3 separate regions of the Homo sapiens genome follow, and all the other regions are linked to region 2. The links come from fine-mapping of genetic effects on gene expression. A gene starts in region 2. Each other region holds a variant in brackets. All regions are shown on one strand. Distances are from middle to middle. Region 1 overlaps DSCAML1 (DS cell adhesion molecule like 1). Region 2 holds the start of TAGLN (transgelin). Region 3 overlaps PAFAH1B2 (platelet activating factor acetylhydrolase 1b catalytic subunit 2).

What was found. PIP is the estimated chance that this variant, and not a neighbour inherited with it, causes the effect. A credible set is the group of variants that fine-mapping cannot tell apart.
Region 1: its variant is the best candidate, but not a certain one, in a credible set for the expression of TAGLN in activated CD8 T cells (Schmiedel 2018, PIP 0.78).
Region 3: its variant is the best candidate, but not a certain one, in a credible set for the expression of TAGLN in whole blood (INTERVAL, PIP 0.66).

The regions. Positions count from the first base shown.
Region 1 is chr11:117,648,482-117,652,781 of GRCh38, reverse strand. The region is part of intron 3 of DSCAML1 (DS cell adhesion molecule like 1); the gene reads left to right. Among named protein-coding and RNA genes, the nearest start is that of DSCAML1, 150 kb to the left of the region's middle. The variant T/C (reference allele first, on the strand shown) is at 1,894.
Region 2 is chr11:117,197,100-117,201,243 of GRCh38, reverse strand. It overlaps TAGLN (transgelin), which reads right to left and starts at 1,874. Exons shown (of 5, transcript NM_003186.5): 1 at 1,812-1,874. It overlaps SIDT2 (SID1 transmembrane family member 2), which reads right to left. Exons shown (of 26, transcript NM_001040455.2): 26 at 3,802-4,144. LOC100652768 (a long non-coding RNA gene) reads left to right here. Exons shown (of 8, transcript NR_045215.1): 2 at 1,332-1,393; 3 at 2,456-2,507; 4 at 2,808-2,925; 5 at 3,337-3,458; 6 at 3,840-4,014; 7 at 4,098-4,144. RefSeq lists a silencer at 2,957-3,251 and an enhancer at 2,654-3,317.
Region 3 is chr11:117,157,815-117,161,814 of GRCh38, reverse strand. PAFAH1B2 (platelet activating factor acetylhydrolase 1b catalytic subunit 2) reads right to left here. Exons shown (of 6, transcript NM_002572.4): 3 at 1,792-1,881; 4 at 554-670. Among named protein-coding and RNA genes, the nearest start is that of PAFAH1B2, 16 kb to the right of the region's middle. The variant A/G (reference allele first, on the strand shown) is at 1,898.

The DNA.
Region 1 (4,300 bases), 450 kb before region 2:
GAGACACCTTGCCTCCCACAGCCCTTACCAATGCACGCACGGTTATCATCGTGACTGGGCACTTTATGACCAGTCCCAGCATTCCTTCTGCTCATCCAGTTGCTTCGGGGGCCCAGGCAAGAATCTTGAGGCATTTTGAAGCTAAGTGTCTCTAGGGTTTAGATTTCCATGGATCACCATCTCTCCTCTACCTCTTCTTCCCAGCCTGGGTAAGACTAGAGCTGTGGCTGCCTCAGGTGTGAGTATGTCACCTTTTAAATGGTGGTGTATTGGAGGTGGAGCAGGTCTTGCATCCATCTCTGCAGTCCCAGATGGGGAGGTGACTGGGAACGGTAAGTGACTTCCCCAATTCAAGGGCATGGCGTGGTGGGACAGGGGCTACGCCGCCCTCTAGTCTTGGAGGTCTGGGCAGTGTCATCTGCTCCATCTCCTGGTTCTTTCCCATGGGGATAATATGCATGGCAGCATCACATGCGTAGCCCAGGTGACCTCTCTCGTCATGGAGACTAAGAGCTGGGGACTAGAGCAGGCAACACGCTGGAGACTAATTCTACCAACGCCTTGTCTCCAGAAAAGAAAAGATATTGGGAGTCTGAGAAGCAATTTTGAAGTTGGGGCTTCCCCTACTAGAAGGCATCCAGGACAGCTGGATCTCGATAAGTCCAGTGTGGCCCAAGGGTTTGCTGTCAGCCTTGCGATCTCCGAACCCTGAGAAGGAAGATGGTGCAAGGAGGAGGCAAGGCCAAGAGCACCAGGCCTTGCTGGCTTAGAGGAAACAGTGGCTCAGAAGCCAGAGGTGAGCCTGGGCTGCCCTAGGAGGCTGGACCAATACCCGTAATCAGAGAGAATAGTTGACAGATGACCACTTGCAGAGTAGGCATTGTCATCCCCGCTGTTTCCCTGAACCTATTTCTGCAGAGGCTCGGGGAGACATCGGGGATGACATCTGTCTTGAAGGGCTGCAGTGACTATAAAACCAGATAATGTCAAGAAAGTACTTTGAAACTCTGAAGGACAACAAATTTTTAGGGATGCAATCATTCTTTTTTTTTTTTTTTTTTTTTTTTTTTGAGACAGAGTCTTGCTCTGTCGCCCAGGCTGGAGTACGCTGGCAAGATCTCGGCTCACTGCAAGCTCCACCTCCTGGGTTCACGCCATCCTCCTGCCTCAGCCTCCCGAGTAGCTGGGACTACAGGTGCCCGCCACCACGGCCGGCTAATTTTTTTTTTTTTGTATTTTTAGTAGAGACAGGATTTCACCGTGTTAGCCAGGATGGTCTCGATCTCCTGACCTCGTGATCTGCCCGCCTCGGCCTCCCAAAGTGCTGGGATTACAGGCGTGAGCCACCGCACCCGGCCTAGGGGTGCAATCATTCTTATATTTGCTGGAGATGTAGCCAGGGCTCAGGAGCTGAGCAGAGCCCATCAGTGCACTGTGGAGCACAGCCTGTTGGAGTCCTTGGGCTGGGGCCACTGGACAAAGTGCTGCCACTGCAGCCCCTGCCAGGGTGGCATTTCTGTGGCCTTATCATCTGTTTCTGTTTCTTGTCCCATCCCTGAGCTGAGGCTGGAGCTGCAGACCCTGGTCCAGTAGCCATGGACAGAGGCAGCAGCTGTTTCAGGCTGTAAGAGCAAAGCGCCCTGGATTGAGGCTTCGGTCAAAATGTGGGCCTTAGTCTGTGCCCACAAATCAGGCCATGTCCATGTCCCCCATGGTCACAGGCATGACCTCCAAGGTCCCACCCAGGGTTGCTTTCCAGGCTACAAAGGCACGGAAGACAAATTAGGCACACAGGAGACATCCCTGTCCTCTCCCTGGAGGTTGCCCTGGAAACTCTTACTACCTGTACTCTCCCAGGTTGATCAACTGGCAGAGGCCTGGGGCCTGTTTGGG[T/C]GATTCTGAACCAACTCAGGCCCAGGCACCACAGGGTTCCCTTTGGGCTCAGCACCAGATCTCACCACAGTGGAAAGCTGGGCAATTAGCTGCCGAGTCCTGAGCAGCCCTCAACCACCCCTGACCATCTGAATCATCCTAGCAAGCCACCCACTGGGAACCCCAATCCCCACCACACACACACACGCACACACACACACACACACACACACACACACACAGATAGACACACACACTTTAAACAGAATGACTCAGATGGACTCCAAGGGCAGCCTCAGATCACCAGCTCGGTACTGTGACCTTCCACCAAGTGTGTGTTCAGACTGGCAGAGGCTCTGACAGCCTCTTTGCACGAGGCTGCGTGTGATCTCTTCTGACTTTCTACCTAATTGTCCTGGAAAAGAGCTGGAGAGGACAGTTTCTCAGAGAACCGCAGCTGCATCTCTTCAGGGCATTCATTCATTCATTCATTCATTTCTTCAACTAACATCTGTGGAGTATCTTCTGAATCCCATAACTGGATCCTGGCAACATGCAGAAGAAACCCGGGCCCTATCCTCTTCAGCCTGAGGGCCTGCAAAGCCTTTGACACGAGGCAGTCCATACGTGAAGCATCTCTAGCTGAGGTCCTGCCAAACCTGGCAGCACCTCAGAATCATGTGGGGAGTGGGCAGACACAAATTCCTGGGCCGCACCCTGGAGATCCAGACTGAGAAGGCACAGGGCGGGGCCTGGGAACCCGTGTTTTTTGGAAGTTCACAGATAATGCCAGTGAGGAGCCGTATCTGGGGACCACAGCTCTAGTCCCTTGCCTGGTTCCTAAAAAGAGGAAACTGAAACCCAGTTAGTGGCCTAGCCTGTGCCAACCGCTGCTCAGTGCCCCAGAATGCCCTGCCAGCCAAAGGGAGGACAGGTTGAGCCAAGCAAGGGGTTCCAATGAGGAAGGGTCAAGGCAGCACATCAAGAGGCAACTCCTGGGGAGGCCATGGTTCCGATGAGCAGAGGAAGGAGGAAGCACTTGGCAGGCTGGGGCGGAGGCACGGAAGGAGCACAAATCTCCCTGTGAGAACTGCCTGGACCTGTTCAGGGAGAGGGAACCTACGGATAGGTCCAGAAAGGTAGGTTGAGAACAGGTTTAGGACCAAGGAATTCCTGCATTATTCAATAGCCATTGTGGAAATTTTCTCAACCCGTGCTATTTTAAGACAATAACTCTTACAATAAAGTGGGCCATTAGTTCACAGGGGTTTGGTAGGGACGAGCCCAGAGCAGGGAGATCAATGAAGAAGAGTGGTGGGGTCACAGTGGGGCCCAGAAGGAGAGGAGAGATGCAGAGCCAAGCCCTGGTGACCACGGGAAGCTGCCAGGGAGATGGGAGAGTCAAAGATATTAACATTTTGAACTTTGGCACCTGCAAGAACAGGCATATGGCTAGTGGAGACGGGGAACTTATCAGGGCTGGAGAGACCAATTTTAAGGGAAAGGCTTTCTCTTTGGGCCTGCAAAAATAGTGATAAGTTGGCGGGGCATGGTGGCTTATGCCAGCACTTTGGGAGGCCAAGGCGGGCAGATCACCTGAGGTCAGGAGTTCGAGACCAGCCTGGCCAATGTGGTGAAACCTCGTCTCTACTAAAAATACAAAAATTAGCCTGGTGTGGGGGTGCACGCCTGTAATCCTAGCTGCTGGGGTGGCTGAGGCAGGAGGCTTGCTTTAACCCTGGGAGGCGGAGGTTGCAGTGAGCCGAGATCATGCCATTGCACTCAAGCCTGGGTGACAAGAGCGAAATTCTGTCTAAAAATACACACACACACACACACACACACACACACACACACACACACACACATATATATGGAGAGAGAGAGAGCGAGAGGGAGAGAGAGATAAGTAAAGCATTCAGAACAATCCTGGCCAGAGTAGATGCTTAAGATTTAGTTGTTATTTGCTGTTCTACATTAGGCCTGAGCTGGTGGGAATGTCACATTCCTCATCTTTGGTCTGATTCTCTGTGGCAGGCACTTGCCTTCCCAGGAAGCACTAAGCATTTGGCTTTGCAGAGATTTTACCTCCTATCTCTGGAGAAGGCGCCGCCTTGGATTCTGGGCCACCTGGATTGCTAAAGCCTGGGGTTAGGTGCTGGAGAGGAGAATAAACATTTATGGAGCAGCTACCAGGAGGCAGAGTGTGCACCAGGTGTCTGGCTGTGTGTTCTTTCCAACTCTGCACAACCAAGGGGTGAGGTATTACCGCTGTTCCCATCTTGCAGAGGAAGTGAATTGCTCTGTGACCCATGATGAAAGGGCTGAGACAGCCACACACACAGGTCAGTCTGACCCCAAAGCCTGTGCTCTTCCCCTTATAGGGCCCACTGCTTCCACGTTCTAGAATCCTTTCTCCTTTTCTTTG
Region 2 (4,144 bases):
TGAGGACCCAGTTCTCTGAGCACTGGGGATGAGGTGGGCTCCTGGCCCAGCCACCCCTCTCCCTGCCAGTGATGCCAGAGACCCCAAAGGCAGAGTGCTCTGTTCTGCTGTTCAGCTACAAACAGCCAATCCCTCCCTTCACCCTGTGTGTCCCACCCCCGCTCCCCAACCACCCAAGGACTCCTGCACAAAGAACTGTGGTCCAAACCCCCAAGTCAGCTGGGACCAGGTGATTTTGGTAGCCCTGCATCCTGGCTTCCATCCACCCCAGCCTCTGTCTCAGCCTTTGCACCACCATCCCAGACAGGCATCCACCTTCTGTCTCTGGCCCTGCTTCTACCCCCACTCCACCTGCCCTCATGTCTGCCTTCCCCTTCTGCACCCCTGCTGGGCTCCTGAGGAACAGGATGGAAGGAGAGTGTGTCCCCTACCCCCAGCTTCCAGTCTCAGGAGGGTCAGAACAGACAATACAGGTCAAAGCAGCAAGGCTAAGGGTGACAGGTACACAACGCTGCAGCCCCCAGATCTAGAGACAAGATTAGGATTTCGGTCAGAGGGGGATGAAGCACACACCATCCCCACTCCCACCCAGCACCACCATCCTTCCCCTTCCTCCTCCTGGGTCAGGGTCGAAAAGTGGAGAATCCCCAGAAATCCTTTAGAGTCCTCTGATGAAGCCTCCCGAGTCCTGCCTTCGAGCCAGTGGGGAGGGGGAGAGGAGGATGATTACAGGGCGGCCCCCCCAGGGGCATCTCAAGACACTCCCAGGACAGCATGGACAGGCATGGACCCTCCTGCCCTGTGGCTCCTGCCAGGACCCCTCCCCTGAGCTGCCCAGTGGGTGAAAGTGGGCAGTGGAGAAAGAAAGTCCAGGGTCAAACGGGAAGGTGGCACCCCCTACCAGCAGAAGCCCAGAAACACGAGCAGAGCCAGGGGCCCCTGCAGGGCTGCTGTGCCCCTTCTCTCTTCCCAAATAGGAGTGAGCACACCTGGACCTCTGAGAGGGCAGGAGGGTGGCTCCTCTCCACTCCACGGACAAACAGGAGTGGCCTGGCTACATAAATGTGTGCCATCCTCACTGCTACCTTTGGAATAGCAACTTCGAAAGGGAACCACCCTTTGGGAAAGACCAAGGGTCCCAGGCCTGCCCCGCCTATCACTCCAAAGCTCCTCCTTGGCAGTACCCGCCCCCCACCCCTCTGCTACAGTGGGGGTGACCTCCCACTGTCAGACAGTGGAAGGGGCTGCTTGTCAGAAGGACAGGCCTTCCGTCTCCACTCTTTGCCCCTGACTGGAATACAAGAGTTCTGTGGCCCTTCACATTGTCACAGGGCTATCGCTGCTGCTCAGGCCCTGGGGACCCGCCAGAGTGGGACACCGTGCTCCAACACAGGTGCGTTCACACACTCCTCACCTCCTTGGAAGTTCTCCTGGAGGGGCAACAGACAGTAGAGCCTTGGCCTAACCGGCCGGCGCCTGCACCCTTACACACACCTTGTGGATGTGGCTGGCTGAGATGGGGAGCCTCCCTCTCACCCCGGTGGTTTCCATCAATTCCTCTGCACTAGCCAAGTCATCCGGGGCATTTCAATGAGCCCGGGGCTGCCCAGTCTGAGAGAGATCCAGGACGCTAGTGATCCAGCCCACCCTGCCTGGAGCTTGGGCCCCCATGCTGACTGAGAGGGTGGGTTTCCCTAGCCAGGGAGCTGGAGCTGGCGCCTGGGACCTCAGGAGAGCCTGCCTGAAATGCACCCACTGCTCCTGTCCAGCTCCAGCCCAACTTCCCTCCAAGCCCCAGCCAATGCACTCACAAGGCTTCCTCAGGGCTCGCAGGAAGGAGTGAAGACTTGTGTCTGGGTTCGGACAGACAGGATGGGGCGCTGGCTGGGTGAGGGGTTTAAAGGGCTGCCGCCGTGGTGATGTCAGCCTCCCCCACTGGCTCGCTCCTCGGCCCCCTCCCTGCTAGAGGAAGCCGGCTCCGCTCCCCACCCCCGGCTCCCCCAGTGACTCCACACAGGCTCCATATTTGGGGAAAGACACCAAGTTGGAGCAGTCTACCGGGGCTGCCGAGACATTCTCTGCATGCTTTGGAGATGGAGCGGGCCGGGGCGGGGCACGCTGCCGGCGGGGAGCCGGCCCGGGAAAAGCCTTTTATGGACAGGACCCTGCCCGGACTTACGGCTGCTCCTACTTCACTGTTCTCTGGCCCCGAGTTTGAGAAGAGGGGGAGTTCAATAGAGTCTGGCTGGAGAGAGGGGCAAGGGGCTGGGGAGCCGGGAATCCCAGGGGTTTGTGGGGACAAACCAGCCACCCTCTCCTCCTGGGGCTTTTAGCTCTGATGGGACATGGGATCCAACCTTTCCTGAGGACCTACTCCACACCAGGCCCTTTGCAGTGCTCTCATTGAATACTCACAGCTACAGTGTGAGGGTGTAATTACATCCCCATTTTATAGATGAGGAAACTGAGGCCCCGAGTGCGTCTTCCTCAAGGCCACATGGTGAATGGTAAGTGGCAGATCCTGCACACCTCTGCCAACCCGCATGGGTGCAGGAGAGGTGGTCAGACCCACCCTTTCAATTGGACCACCCTGCTCAGGTTGAGAAGAGCTTTCAGTGCAGGTAGGTCTTGAGTTATATGCTTTAGTTGGGGCTGGGATTTGAGGGTTCGGCAGAAGCTGAGTCCAACTCCGGTCCCCATCCAGTGGGCAGTGTCAATAAGAGGGTCTATAAGGCCTGGCAGGGCCTGAGACACTAACGCAGGAGAAGGAGGCTCAGGAGGCTGGTATCATCCCTTCCTCCCTTTAGGAACAGTCCCTACCAGCCTGGAAAACAGACCAGCCTCTGTCACTCCAGAGATAACCCACTCTCATCTTGCTCGTACCTGGCTTCAGGGATCTTGGGGAGAGATAAGAGGTTAAAAAAGGTGAGACTAACAGTGGGATCCCTGGACTGACTGCTGTGGCACTCCCCTGCAAGGGCATCTGGTAGGGAAGACCTAACACTCTCCACTACACACACACTGCCACACCCGGCACCACCCCTAGCCAAACAAGGCCCTAGGAGGGGGCTGCCAGGCCTGGCAGAGGAGGGGCCCGCCTCCGCAGTTCTGCCCACTGCAACTGGACATGCTCCAGAGCCCAGGGGAGGCACAGCCATAGCACCTCCCAGTGGCGCCTGCAGGAAAAGCAGGAAGAGGAGTGGGCCCTGGCGAGGGGAAAGCCCACTCCTCCATCCCTGACCCTGCAGACCTCTGGTTGTGTTCTGAATTCAACAGATTCCTTGGCCCCCAAATCATGTCCTCCTTAGCCGACTGAAGTCTAAATGAATCTTTCAGGGACATATCAAAACTCCCTCCTCTTGGAGCCTGCCCAGCTTTCATCACCCTCCTGCCTCGGCCTGCACGCTGAGCGGATTATAAACGCCGCATCAGGGAGCACTGCTTGGGCCTGTGGCTTGGTGAGCTGGGGGCCGCTCAGGTCAGAGGTGAAGTGAGCCTCAGTCTGGTGGGCGGGGCCAGGTGGGCAGAGACTGCTGTTCCTGGGGAGGTAAGGAGGGATGTCTGCAGTGGGATGGCGTGGGAAAGGCTTTTCCAGGAACTGGCCTCTGTCCAGCACAGTGCCCCGGTAAATGTTTACTGAATTAATGCTGTTGCTGGAGGGACAGGAAAAACGGGAGAATCAAGGAATTGCAGTTCCCAGTAGGGCCATGGCTTGAAGAATGGGGAAATGGAAGACCTCCGCCTCTCCCCTCATCCTCAACAGCTCCACCCAGAGGGAGTGCAAACAAGGGCCCCAAGAACTGAGTCTGGTTGTTTATTGAATGCAAATTCATTCATAGAAAACGGAAATGCAACCATAGCATGGAGACGCTCTGAGAAAAGATCCAGACCCACCTCATCTCCCAGCCCTTCAAGCAGAGCTATAAAAACAAGTTTGGGAGAAAAACACATTCCCATCCCCAAAGCAGAGGCCCCGCCTGAGCTCCCCCATCCTCAGCATCTGGGGTGGACCAGGTGGGACGAAGGGGATCCAAGGACCAGGGTGGCCAGGGTGCCCAGAGCTGGGGCAATTCTTTGTAAACTCCAAGGTTTCATAGGTATGTGTGTGCATGACTAACACAGAACTTGCCTGAAGACTGGACGG
Region 3 (4,000 bases), 39 kb after region 2:
TCCTTCAGCCAGGCGCGGTGGCTCATGCTTGTAATTCTCCAGCACTTTTGGGAGGCCGAAGCGGGTGGATCACAAGGTCATGAGTTCAAGACCAGCCTGGCCAAGATGGTGAAACCCCATCTCTACCAAAAATACAAAAATTAGCTGGGCACAGTGGCGGCGCCTGTAATCCCAGCTACTCGGGAGGCTGAGGCAGGAGAATCGCTTGAACCCAGGAGGCGGAGGTTGCAGTGAGCTGAGATCACACCACTGCACTCTAGCCTGGGTGACAAAGCAAGACTCCATCTCAAAAAAAAAAAAAACTCTTCCTTCAACTTAAGAAAGTAATTATAACAACTATAAATACAACCCAATAGGCAAACAATTCACTAGTTTCTTAATTATATATTTTGGCATATTCTCAAGCAATGACAGTATCATTTACCTTAAAGAGGCACGAAAAAAATAGTGAAATAGGTCTTTAAAGAAGCAATTTTTTTTTACAGTTTCAGACAATTTAACTATCCAAAACAGACTTAAGATTAATGACATTGACAAGTAACTTTCATTTCACCTTAGGCTTAATATTCTCCAGTTCTCCATTCTTTAGTCTCCACAAAACATGTCTTGTTGTATCTCCCCCAATTCCAAAATTCAGTGCATGAAGTGGGGAAAAAAGCTCTCGCCATATCTAAAAAAAGAAAAACTTGATTTAGTGTACCTAAAACTAGGGGAAAGTTTAATCTTTCGACTGCAATGTGTTGCAAGGCATTAATTTCCTTTTTCTGTATTCAAAGATAACACTGTAATGGTGTGACACTGTTTAAGGGCTTTTAAGATACCATTGTGTAACTCAGTTCTTAATGCAGCCTTAGGTCTCAGCTCAAGAAATGAGTCACAACTCAATCTGATGCCCCCTAAAAGGTATCAACATTAATAATTAAGCTGTCAACTCAACAAACCCTCCTTTCCACTTATTGAACTACAGAAACAGGGTGAAGTAGAAACAAGAGATGAAGAAATTTAGAGTGCTAGAGCTTAAAAAAAAAAAAAAAAGCTATCTTTTAAATTTCCCTTGGGGCTGGGCACAGTGGCCCATGCCTATAATCCCAGCACTCTGTGAGGCCAAGGCACGTGGATCATTTGAGGCCAAGAGTTCGAGACCAGCCTGGCCAACATAGTGAAACCCCGTCTCCACTAAAAATACAAAAATCAGTCAGGCATGGTGGCACATGCCTATAATCCCAACTACTCAGGGGCTGAGGTATGAGAATCTCTTGAGCCTGAGATTGTGCCACTGCACTCCAGCCTCGACGATGGAGCGGGACTGTCTCAAAAAAATAAATTAAAAAATAAAAAAACTAATAAATTTCCCATGGAAGAATGCCTAAACCCTAAAAGAAGATTGGCAATAGCTTACTACAAAAATATATGAAATAGGAAAATGGCAAAATATAAGTAAGAATCATGACTAGGATAAATGTTATTAGCAAATACAAATAGGAAATACTAAGATACAAATAATAACTTGACAATCTGAGTAGAGCAAATATAAACAAATATAACATCAAGCCTCTTGGAAACCAGAGTAGAAGAGGAAGTTTCATTATAAACAATGCTTCAGATCAGAACATGGCCAAGTTAAAAGAAAGAAAAGAAAATCCCTTTAGGTAGCTTTGATTCTCTTATAACCTCAATTAGGGCTTCTCTAAGAGTCACAAATAAGTAAGTTCAGCTCAGAATGAAAGTCTGTTAGTAATGAATGGATATACATGAGTAGCCAAGAACCACGCTCATCCCTTCCACCTTTACCTCATATTGCTGCATTAACTGCACCATGGAGTCTCCCACGAACAGTACATCAGGCTCTTTGTCTTTACAGTCCAAAACAAATCTGTTGTGCTGGTTTGAAGAAGAA[A/G]AAAAAAAATTATTAACTGGCACTTCTGGCTGGGTGTGGTGGCCCATGCTTGAACTCTCAACATTTTGGGAGGCCAGGACAGGAGAATAACTTGAGGTCAGGAGTTTGAGATCAGCCTGGGTAATATATCAAGATCCCATCTCTACAAAAACAACTTTTTTCTTTCTTTTTTTTTTTTTTTCTAAGACAGCGTCTGGCTCTCTCACCCAGGCTGGAGTACAGTGGCGTGATCTTGGCTCACTGCAACTTCTGCTTCAGGGGCTCAAGTCATCTTCCCACCTCAGTCACCTGAATAGCTGGGATTATAGGCTCATGCCACCATGCCTGGCTAATTTTTTCTATTTTTTTGTAGAGACGAGGTTTTACCATGTTGCCCAGGCTGGTCTTGAACTCCTGAGCTCAAGCAATCTGCCCACCTTAGCCTTCCAAAGTGCTGGGATTACAGGTGTGAGCCACACATCTAGCCAAAAAAAAATTTTTTTAATAAAAAAAGAAACTGATATTTCTTTCCCTGTGAGACTTCTTGGCCTAGAAAGAACAGCTGTTCAACCAGTTACTGTTGTTGAACATTTTTTTTAGTCTATCCCCAAAGCTTATTCCTCTCATTCTATAAATTACTGTTTGAACTTTCTTCTCACCCTTACCATACAGAGCATTCTAGTACTCTCAAGAAACCCAGAATTCTACTGAAACCAGAATAGAAAAATACATGTAACATGCTGTTTAGAAGTTTATCTTTTCCTCAAACTTTTATTAAGAAAATTGTAGATACACAGAAAGTTGACATATTACAATGAACACATATACATCTGCCTCTTGTATTCAACAACTAATAGTATTTTCCCATGTTTGCTTTGTTTCTATGTATGTGTGCATGTTTGCTGGACCACTTGTGAAGTAGAATGCAAACATTATGATTCTTCACCCTAATCAGCAAGCATCTCCTAAGAGTAAGAACATCCTCTTATAAAACCAAATGGTGCGGTGGCTCACGCCGGTAATCCCAGCACTTTGGGAGGCCAGGGTGGGCAGATCACCTGAGGTTGGGAGTTCGAGACCAGCCCAGCCAACATGGTGAAACCCCGCCTCTAATAATAATACAAAAATTAGCCAGGTGTGGTGGCGGGTGCCTGTAGTCCCAGCTACTCAGGAGGCTAAGGGAGGAGAATCGCCTGAACCTGGGAGACGGAGGTTGCAGTGAGCCGGGATCATGCCATTACACTCCAGCCTAGGCGACAAGAGCGAAACTCCATCTTAAAAAAAAAAAAAAAAAAAAAGCCCACAAACTATTATCATAACTAGGAAAAGAAACAATCCCATAACATTCAATTTTTCAAATGGCTCCAAGAGTTCAATAAAGTATTATATCATTTTCTCAACTATGATCCAATGAGGATCCATGTATTTTATTTGAATGCAGACTTTGAAAATATCTGTTAACTTCCAAATGTGAGACACCGGCAAACTAGGACTCAATCCTTTTCAGTCAAATCCAAGTTTATAAACAGTGGTAATCTCCGCCCAGAGTGCCTCTTTCTGTTATAAAGGCACAAGACACTCTCTAAAATAGATTTTGGCCAGGTGTGGTGGCTCATGTCCATAATCTTAGCACTTTAGGAGGCCAAGGTGTGAAGGATAGCTTGAGCCCAGGCATTCGAGACCAGCCTGGGCAACATCATGAGACCCCTTCACTATGAAGAAAAGAAAGAAAGAAAAAAGAAAACAAATTTTACCCATCAATGCTAAAGAACATAGTTTAAACTTTTTATTTTACTTTTTGGAGATGGAATCTCACTTTATCACTCAGGCTGGAGTGTAGTGGCGCGATCTTAGCTCACTGCAACCTCCACCTCCCGGGTTCAACCAATTTTTGTGCCTCAGCCTCCCGAGTAGCTGGGATTACAGGCGCCCACCACCATGCCCAGCTAATTTTTGTATTTTTAGTAGAGATGGGGTTTCACCATGTTGGTCAGGCTGGTCTCGAACTCCTGACCTCAGGTGATCCACCCGCCTCAGCCTCCAAAAGTGCTGGGATTACAGGCGTGAACTACCGTGCCAGACCAGTTTAAACTTTTATATTCATCCCTTAAACAAATTTATACA